2 separate regions of the Homo sapiens genome follow, and region 2 is reported to be linked to region 1. Evidence: microRNA targets listed by miRTarBase, many of them from high-throughput screens and not tested one by one. Region 1 holds a microRNA gene; the other region holds the end of a gene's coding sequence.
Evidence for each region. Region 1 holds the annotated microRNA hsa-miR-27a-3p (UUCACAGUGGCUAAGUUCCGC, at 2,665-2,685, shown strand). A microRNA usually pairs through its seed, bases 2 to 8, with sites in the 3' UTR of a target mRNA and lowers its output. Matches are read on the target gene's strand: a 7mer-m8 pairs with bases 2 to 8, a 7mer-A1 pairs with bases 2 to 7 and ends in A, and an 8mer does both.

Region 1 (5,158 bases):
GCTCCCAGTTGGCGCCTCCAGACCCTAAGGGGACAGGGCTGGGCTGGGGCCTGATGGGAAAGAGTGGCTGGTATGTGTGTATGTGTGTATAGGGAGGGGACAAAACAGGACATCACTCGCCGCCTGTCTCGAAGTGGTGAGCGCCACCACATCGGGCGGACACTGGGGTCCTGGTGTGAGACACCCACGTTTCCGTTATCCTTTGCCTTGGCAAAGACAGCAGCAGCTCTGTCGTGATCATGTTTATCACTCATGGGGTCCTCACCATGACTTATGAAGTCCATACTTATTATCCCTGTTTTGCAGATGGGGAAGCTGAGGCCCAGAGAGGTTGAGTGACTTGCCCAGAGTCACCCAGCTCAGAAGCTGCAGAGCTGGGGCTTTCAAATCTGGGCAGACTTGGGCTCCAAAACTGGAGTCTGCTAGCCAGGTGTTGGGCTCTTATCAAAAGAAGCTCCACTCACTAAAGACTTAGGGCTGGCTTCATGCATTTGTGAAACGGGCAGTCTCACGGCAGCCCTGCTTGGAGGGACCTGGAGGTTAGTTTAATGTTGCACTGCTGGGGTCATGAATTTTTTTTTATTATTATTAATTTTTTTGTCTTGTATTGCCCAGGCTGGTCTCGAACTCCTGGCCCCAAGCGATCTTCCTGTCTTGGCCTCCCGAAGTGCCGGGATTATAGGGATGAGCCACCGCGCTCAGCCTGAAATTATTTTCTTTTTTTAAACTTGTTTTTGTTTATTTTAGAGATAGGGTCTTGCTCTGTCACTTAGGCTGGAGTTCAGTGGCATGGTCATAGATCACGGCAGCCTCAAACTCCTGGGCTCAAGCAGTCCTCCCACCTCAGCCGCCTGAGTAGCTGGGGCTACAGATGTGTACCACCACTCCTGGCTGATTTTTTAGTGAATTTTTTGTGGGCCAGACACTGTGGCTCAGGCCTGTAAGCCCAGCACTTTGGGAGGCTGAGGCAGGCGGATTGCTTGAGCCCAGGAGTTGGAGACCAGTCTGGGCAACATGGCAAAACCCCATCTCTACAAAAATTAGGGCCAGGTGTGGTGGCTCACGCCTGTAATCCCAGCACTTTGGAAAGCCGAGGTGGGCGGATCACCTGAGGTCAGGAGGTCGAGACCAGCCTGGCCAACATGGTGAAACCCCGTCTCTACTAAAAATACAAAACTTAACTGGGCGTGGTGGCGGGCACCTGTAATCCCAGCTACTCGGGAGGCTGAAGCAGGAGAATTGCTTGAACTCTGGAGGTGGAGGTTGCAGTGAACCGAGATCACGCCATTGCACTCCAGCCTGGGCGACAGGGCGAGACTCTGTCTCAAAAAAAAAAAAAAAGAAAAGAAAAAGAAAAAATTAGCCGGGCATGGTGGTGCATAGCTGTAGTCCCAGCTACCCCGGAGGCTAAGGTGGGAGGATCACTTGAACCTGGGAGGCTGAGGCTGCAGTGAGCTGTGATTGCACCCCTGCACTCTAGCCGTGGCGACAGAGTGAGACCCTGTCTCAAAAAAGAAAAAATATTTTTTTTTTTTGTAGAGATGGGGTATTGTCGTATTGCGCAGGCTGGTCTTGAACTCCTGGCCTCAGGTGACTCTCCTGCCTCGGCCTCCCAAAGTGCTGGGATTACAGGCGTGAGCCGCCATGCTTGGCCTGAAATTCTTAGTTTTCGAACTAGAGGACCACGTGTTCATTTTGCACCGGGTCCTGAAAATCCTGTATCTTGCCCTGGTGCTGGGCACTTACTGAGTGACATACATACTCGGTGACATCTCACTGGGCTATGCAAAAGAGGCTCTTGGCTCCATTTTACAGATGGGGAAACTGAAGCTTTGGAGAGTCTTTGGGAAACTGTGGAGCAAGGATTTGAACCTTGGGCTGTTTGGGTGGAGAGGCCTGTATCTTGGAGCTTGGATCCTGTGCTCTGGGGGGCGGGGGGTGCGTGTCTAGAAAGAGAGGGGGGTGCCTTGCTGCCGGCATCCGCCCTGGTGGGTGTGGGCTAAGCCCTGGCCACTGAGGAGACCGGGCCACGGGGGGGGAGGCCCTGGTGGTTTCCTCCTGCCCTCCAGGCTTCTAGGAAGTGGCGCCAGCTGGGGTGAGATCACTTCCTCACCCGCCTGCCTGGCCCCCCTTGGCTTCCTCTCCCCATGGCCCCATTTGGCCTGCCCAGGGCTCAATGAGGGGGGAGCTTGGCCATGCAAGTTGCTGTAGCCTCCTTGTCCCGCATGGGCCCTCTAGGTATCTCTGCCTCTCCAGTCCTGGGGCTGGAACGGAGGGCACAGCTAGGCTCCAGCTCCCCGTGTGGTGGCTCCTGCATATGAGAAAAGAGCTTCCCTGTGATCAAAGGAAGCATCTGGGGACCTGGAGGGGAGGTGTCCCCAAATCTCATTACCTCCTTTGCTCTCTCTCTCTTTCTCCCCTCCAGGTGCCAGCCTCTGGCCCCGCCCGGTGCCCCCCTCACCCCTGTGCCACGGCCGGCTGGGGTTCCTGGGGATGGGATTTGCTTCCTGTCACAAATCACATTGCCAGGGATTTCCAACCGACCCTGAGCTCTGCCACCGAGGATGCTGCCCGGGGACGGGGTGGCAGAGAGGCCCCGAAGCCTGTGCCTGGCCTGAGGAGCAGGGCTTAGCTGCTTGTGAGCAGGGTCCACACCAAGTCGTGTTCACAGTGGCTAAGTTCCGCCCCCCAGGCCCTCACCTCCTCTGGCCTTGCCGCCTGTCCCCTGCTGCCGCCTGTCTGCCTGCCATCCTGCTGCCTGGCCTCCCTGGGCTCTGCCTCCCGTGCCTACTGAGCTGAAACACAGTTGGTTTGTGTACACTGGCTCAGTTCAGCAGGAACAGGGGTCAAGCCCCCTTGGAGCCTGCAGCCCCTGCCTTCCCTGGGTGGGCTGATGCTTGGAGCAGAGATGAGGACTCAGAATCAGACCTGTGTCTGGAGGAGGGATGTGGTGGGTGGGGTTGGCTGGGCCCAAATGTGTGCTGCAGGCCCTGATCCCCAACTCTGCAACTGGGGACCCCTGCATGGCCACAGCTCAGGCTGGGCTGTGGTGCCAGCATAGATAGGTGGGTGAGTGGGTGGCCCTTCCATTAAAAGGGAAGCCAGCTGTGTCCTTTCCGGGCCTGGAGGCTTGGCCCCTCCTCTCCCAAGCCTGGCAGGGGCACTGGCCCGGCCCGCACCTTCCTAGCAGCCAGTTACCCAAGAGGAAGCTGCCTTGGGCCTCCAGACCGTTAAATGCCAACTCCTGGCTTCCGGTATCAGGCTGGGTTGACCTGACCTGGCCCCTTCTTGCTGGGCCCTGCAGCTTTCTAACTTGCCGGGAGGAGCAGTGACACCCGCCCCACATGTGGGGCATGGAACAAGTTCCTTGTGGACCCAGAAGGGACACAAGCAGGTGTGCTTAGTCCTGAGGCGCTGGGAATAGCTGATCCTCCCTGCCTTGAGGGGGTTCTCAGGGCAGGGAAGAGTTAGGACTCTGTTTTTTTTTTTTTGTTTTTTTTTTTTTGAGATGGAGTCTCGCACTGTCACCCGGGCTGGAGTGCAATGGCTCGATCTCGGCTCACTGCAACCTCCACCTCCCCAGTTCACACGATTCTCCTGCCTCAGCCTCCCAAGTAGCTGGGATTACAGGTGCACACCACCGCACCTGGCTAATTTTTGTATTTTTAGTAGAGACCGAGTTTCGCCATGTTGGCCAGGCTGGTCTCGAACTCTTGACCTCAGGTGATCTGCCCGCCTCAGCCACCCAAAGTGTTGGGATTACAGGCATGAGCCACTGCGCCCGGCCAATTTTTTTTTATGTTTTGTAGAGACGGGGTTTCGCCATGTTACCCAGACTGGTCTTGAACTCCTGACCTCAAGCAATCTGCTCGTCTTAGCCTCCCAAAGTGCTGGGATTACAGCTGTGAGCCACCGTGCCTGGCCTTTTATTGTTTGTTTTTGAGACGGAGTCTCACTCTGTTGCCCAGGCTGAAGTGCAGTGGTGTGATCTTGGCTCACTGCAACCTCTGCCTCCTGGGTTCAAGCGATTCTCCTGCCTCAGCCTCCTGAGTAGCTGGGCTTACAGGCACCCACCACCATGCCCGGCTAATCTTTGTATTTTTAGTAGAGACGGGGTTTCACCATCTTGGCCAGGCTGGTGTGATCATGGCTCATTGCAACCTTGAATTCCTGGGCACAAGTGATCCTCCTGCCTTAGCCTCCCCAGTAGAGCTGGGACTACAGGTATGCGCCACCACACCTGGCTAATTTTTTTAATTTTAATTTTTGTAGAGATGGGGGGGCAGGTCTCACTATGTTGCCCAGGCTGTTCTCGAACTCCTGGCCACAAGCCATCCTCCCACCTTAGTCTCCCAATGCGCCGGAATTACAGGTGGCTCAGGTGTGAGCCACCGTGCCTGGCTTTTCTCCACTATCTTGAAATCAGATGGGAGGAGGCTTTTTTCTGGGTGGGACTGAGGAGGCACACTGAAGTCCCCCAGGTCATCGGGGCTGGGCCATTGCCTTTTTCCCCACCCTGGGTAGTCGTGGACAGAAGCTTGGGATGGGATGGAGAGGAGAGATCGTGCTGTGTGTCATGTCTGTTGTTCAAGTAAATAAAAGTTGCCCTGACTTCATTCCTGAAGGTCTGGTCTGTGATTCACTCCTGCCTCCCATCGCTGGAGTTTCAGCTTTTGATTGGCCTGAATTTACCATCCTGGCACTCCGGGCTCCTGCCTGCCCATCCCTGCCCCACCTGCTCTGTGCAGCAGGGTATCCTGTGCTTGGAAAGGTGACCTTGGGGGTGTCCTGGATCGTGGGGTGACCATGAGGGAAACCCTAGAGTGGAAAGATTTTCACATCGCTGATCAAGGGAGGATGGAAGCTGATCTGAAGTGGTGGTGGTGGGGTGACCCTGAGGGAAACGCTGAGCCTGAGGGGTGACATGTGGCGATAACCAGGATCTGAGGGTCTTGAGCTAGTGACATTTGGGGGCAACTTGGACCTACGGGATTACTCAGGCCTCAGGGGAAGATTTGGGGTGCCTGGTATCTGAGAATGCTGGAGGGGAACTTGGGTTTGAGGGATGTGACATGAAGGAAACCCCAGTTCTTAAGGGGGGACATTTGGATGTGGCTGGGACCTGCGTGACGCCCCAGGAACATGGGAACATTCGTGG
Region 2 (5,000 bases), not on the chromosome of region 1:
TCAATCAGGGTGTAGGAGATATGTACAGTCAATTGAAATCTTTGATCTGGAGAAGCAATGGATATGCAGGTCACATAGAGTCTTTTGGAAGAGTTCTAGTGAAGGAAATATAGTAGTGCTGGGAATGGGGGGACAAAAAAGCTGTAGGATGAGGTTTGAGTGGGATATTTCAGGCCTTTGTAAGTAGAATTGCCATGAAGTGTGGTTTTGGAAATTCTAGGCAGTGATTTCTTAGAAACTATTAAGTAAAGAATGGAGTTGTTATCCTAATATTATGTCTCTGGCTTTCTCTGTTCTCCTGTCTTGCAGCTCTGTTCCAAACCAGGCACCACAGCCATCCAACTGGGTCCAGTTCTGAATGGCATTGGCAGGACATTAAGGACAGACTTGAGGAATAAAAATGACCTTGAGGGCACCAATCTGTGAGGGAAGTTAGGAACCCATTTCCTCCCCAGAACCAGAATGACTGGACAATCTTTTTCATAGCTTCTCCATCACATTCAAGCTGGTTTATGTCACTCCCCTGTGTTGTTACTTGTACAGCCAAGAAAGTATCTGTTATCTCCTGCGTAGTACCAAGGTAGGGGACTAGTGGATCTTATCATAGTTTTGGCTGACTATGCAGGGCTTAAAAGGCCAGCGTCTGTTTGAGGGGGAATGACCTCTAACATCTGTAAAATTTGTCTCATCTTTTAATTTCTTTAACTTATTTCAAAATCATCTCATGACCCTTGTGTGCCTCTTTGTGAAGCCCTATTTAGCAATTTCAGGGGAGTCAAAAACCTTGCAACTTCCTTCTCCACTAACCCAGGACTAAAAATGGACAGGCTGACCTCAGTGTTTACAAATTCAGAATTTTGATAGGGGTAGATATGGAGAAAGACCTATTTCCTGGGTCTCTGCTGTGTAGTCTCCTTCAGGCTTATTGTGCTCAGTGAACATCCAGTGCTGGGTGCAGCTCCATCACCCTCTTGTGTGTTTACATGTCTCTTTCTATGATAAGAGGGTTGTGTTGGTGGCACCTCCACTACTCTTTTCTGTTTGTTGAGTTTGAATTGTGTTAACATCTTTGATCAGTGGGTGTATCTGTAATGAAGGAGGTTCAAGAGGCTGTGCTTTCCAAGTGATAGTCTATAGGAGTGTTTAATTTCTTGCAGCTCCATCTGGTTGCTGCATTTGAAGCATGGCATTAATTTGTATTTGCCCTGTTCTTTGACCTAAAGTTGAAGGGTTTAGAGTTTTTAACCTGATCTGTAGAGCAGAGAGGTTGAAAGCACTTAACTCTTGTTTAGTATCCTCATTGCCTTGCTGCCTGGGTATCTGGCCCCTTTCCATAAACATTTCTTTTCAGTTCATGTAGTTCTTTAATAGAAAGCTGCTATTATGTATATTGTCATTTGTGAAGGAAGTTGGAGAGTCACAGCTTTACTGTGACAGGTTTTGCCCAAGGCTTTGATACCTGTCACCCAGGGTATCTTAAAAGCAAGTTGTTCTCCCACTACTTTCCTTTCCCTCTGCCCTGCCATTCCTATTACAATGCTGTGAAAAAAGTTCTGCTTCTTAGGTGAATGGGTACTTTCTATTTTGTTTCTAAACGAGCAATTTTGAGGATGAAATGGGAAGATATCATTGCTTCCTTTTTGCACCTATTGGGTATGTACACTCTGGCCGAAGGGAGTCCTTATGTTTAGTTTCAAAATATATTACTTTCCTGGATTCTCTTCTTCACTTTTTCTGACTTTGGGTCCATTTTCTTTTCATTGCCTCCTTTTCCAGGCAGCTCTATTCTTGCAGAGCCATAGCAGGACATGTTAAAATTCCAATAGAAAACACTAAAAGGAAAGTCTGTGGAATCACTAGTGACTAAATACTGGGAACCTATTTTCTCAATCTTCCTCCATGTTGTGTTCTTTGTATTCTTGAGATGATAATATATTATGTATTTGAATTCCTGAAAAATGGAAAATGTTTAAGATATATGTATATAAAGTGTATGCTGTATTGGTGCAATAATGGTAATTAAAAATATGAAAAAAGTGTCTCTTTTATCTTTTAATTTGCTTATTTGATTACCTTTTAAATTTAATTGACCAAATATAAGTGGACCAGTAGTTAATAAAGGATATTTATATCACTCTTTATTAAGAAATAAGGCTTTTAAGAAGTTGAGACTAGACCTCTGTGTTCATGGTTCTAAAATGACAGAGCACTCTGTGTAATCAATGAATATTCATTATTTATTTTCTGGTACAGTTAATTTAATTTGCTTCAAATTATCTTCATGATCTAGGCCACCTCTTATATCTTAACTGTAATCAGCAGAAATGAAAGGGATCAGTATAAGAGAAATAACTAAGGTCAGAACCACAGACTTTGGAAACCAGAAAAGGTCTTGGGAGTTCTTGTTCAGTGATTGCCACAGGAGATAAATTAGCTAGATGTGGTTGGTGGTTTACTCCTGTAATTCCAGCACTTTGAGAGGCTAAGGTGGGAAGATTGGTTGAAGCCAGTTCAAGACCAGCCTGGGCAGTATAGCGAGATCTTATCTCTACAAAAAATCTAAAAATTAGCTGGGCATGGCAGCATGTGCCTGTAGTCCTAGCTACTTGGGAGGCCGAGGTGGGAGGGTCACTTGAGCCTGGGAGGACGAGGCTGCAGTGAGTTGTGATTGTACCATGGTACTCTAGCCTGGATGATAAAATGAGACTCTCTCAAAAGAAAAAACAAAAAACATGAATCAAGGCTGGGCATGGTGGCTCATACCTATAATGCTAGCACTTTGGGAGGCTGAGGCGGGTGGATCACCAGAAGTCAGGAGTTCGAGACCAGCCTGGCCAACATGGTGAAACCCTGTCTCTACTACAAATACAAAAATTAGCTGGGCGTAGTGGTGGGTGCCTGTAATCCCAGCTACTCTGGAGGCTGAGGCAGGAGAATCACTTGAACCTGGGAGGCAGAGGTTGCAGTGGGCTAAGATTACACCACTGCACTCCAGCCTGGGTGACAGTGAGACTCCATCTCCAAAAAAAACAAACAAAACCCCCCCAAAACCATAAAACTATAGCTACAGTAATTTGTTAGTGGATACACAGTATGAAAATATGAAAATTGGTATCAAAAACAAAATGTGGCTGGGTGTGGTGGCTCACGCCTGTAATCCTAGCACTTTGGGAGGCTGAGGTGGGAGTATTGCTTGAGACCAGGAGTTCAAGACGAACCTGGCCAACATAGTAAGACCCTGTCTCAAACAAAACAAAAAATATATATGGGAGGGAAAGTTAAAGTGCAGAGTTTTTGTATGTGATTTAAATTATCAGCTTAAAATAAACTGTTAAAAAGTGTTATGTAAACCTCATGGTAACCACAAAGCAAAAACTATAGTAGATACACAAAAGATAAAGAGAACAATCAAAGGACTATAGAAAATCATCAAATAACAAAGGAATAGAGCAAGAGAGGAAGAAAGGAACAAAGGGCCCACAAAACAATCAAAAAACAATTTGAAAAATGGCAGCAGTAAGTCCTTACCTATTAATGATTATTTTGAATGCAAAATGGATTACATTCTCCAATCAAAAGACAGAGTGGCTAAATGAATTAAAAAAACAAGACTCAACTGTATCCTGCCTACAAGAGCATCACTTCACCTTTAAGGACACATAGAGACTGAAAGTTAGGCATGGAGACAGATATTTAATGCAAATGGAAACCAAAAGAGGGCAGGGGTAGCTATATTACTATATAGTCCCTCCTTATCTGAGGTTTTGTTTTCTGTGCTTTCAGTTACCTGCAGTCAACTGTGCTTTGAAAATACTAACTGGAAAATTACAAAAATTATTCATAAGTTTAAAAGTGGCACACTGGGGGCCGGGCGCGGTGGCTCACCCCTGTAATCCCAGCACTTTGGGAGTCCGAGGCGGGTGGATCATGAGGTCAGGAGATCGAGACCATCCTGGCTAACATGGTGAAACCCCGTCTCTACTAAAAAATAGAAAAAATTAGCCGGGCGTGGTGGCGGGCACCTGTAGTCCCAGCTATTCGGAAGGCTGAGGCAGAATGGCGTGAAGCTGGGAGGCGGAGCTTGCAGTGAGCCGAGATCGCGCCACTGCACTCCAGCCTGGGCGACAGAGCGAGACTCCGTCTCAAAAAAAAAAAAAAAAAAAATAGTGGCACACAGTTGAGTAGTGTGATGAAATCTCACACCATATTCCTTTGCCCTGCCCTGGATGTGAATCATCCTTTTGTCCAATGTGTCCATTCTATATACATTACCTACCTATTTGACACTTGATAGTCCTCTCAGTTATCAGATTGTTGTGGTATTGCAATGCTTGTACAAATTCAGTTAACCCTTATTTTACTTAATAGTGGCCCCAAAGCACAAGAGTGGTGACTCTGGCATATTGTTATATTTATTCTATTTTATTATTACTTATTGTTAATCTCTTGCTGTGCCTAATTTATAAATTTAACTTTATCATAGGTGTATATATAGGAGAAAACATAATGTATATAGGGTTCAGTACCATCTGTGGTTTCAGGCATCCAAGGGGGATCTTGGAATGTATTCCCTCAGGATAAGGGGGGAATACTGTATGTATTTCAGACAAAATAGACTTTAAGTCAAAAGCTATAACAAGAGCAAGAGACACGGTCATTACATAAACGTTGAAGAGGTAAATTCTTTTTTTTTTTTCTTTGAGACAGAATCTCCCTCTTGCCCAGGCTGGAGTGCAGTGGTATGATCTCAGCTCACTGCAACCTCTGCCTCCTGGGTTCAAGTGATTCTCCTGCCTCAGCCTCCTGAAGCTGGGACTACAGGCATGTACCACCACGCCCGGCTGATTTTTGTATTTTTAGTAGAGATGGGTTTTCACCGTGTTGGCCAGGCTGGTCTTGAATTACAGACCTCAAGTGATCCACCCACCTCAGCCTCCCAAAGTGCTGGGATTACAGGTGTGAGCCATTGTGCCTGGCCCAAAGAGGTAAATTCATCAAGA

Region 2: the mRNA of NECAP1 is a reported target of hsa-miR-27a-3p. Seed matches in the 3' UTR shown: 7mer-m8 at 1,428-1,434 and 7mer-A1 at 1,540-1,546.

What each region holds. Positions count from the first base shown.
Region 1 is chr19:13,833,974-13,839,131 of GRCh38, reverse strand. MIR27A (microRNA 27a) reads left to right here and starts at 2,615; the gene lies at 2,615-2,692. It overlaps MIR23AHG (miR-23a/27a/24-2 cluster host gene), which reads left to right. Exons shown (of 1, transcript NR_036515.2): 1 at 1-4,616. MIR24-2 (microRNA 24-2) reads left to right here and starts at 2,773; the gene lies at 2,773-2,845. It overlaps MIR23A (microRNA 23a), which reads left to right and starts at 2,473; the gene lies at 2,473-2,545. RefSeq lists enhancers at 181-400, 431-540.
Region 2 is chr12:8,095,733-8,100,732 of GRCh38, forward strand. NECAP1 (NECAP endocytosis associated 1) reads left to right here. Exons shown (of 8, transcript NM_015509.4): 8 at 310-2,149. The coding sequence ends at 358. Among named protein-coding and RNA genes, the nearest start is that of NECAP1, 16 kb to the left of the region's middle.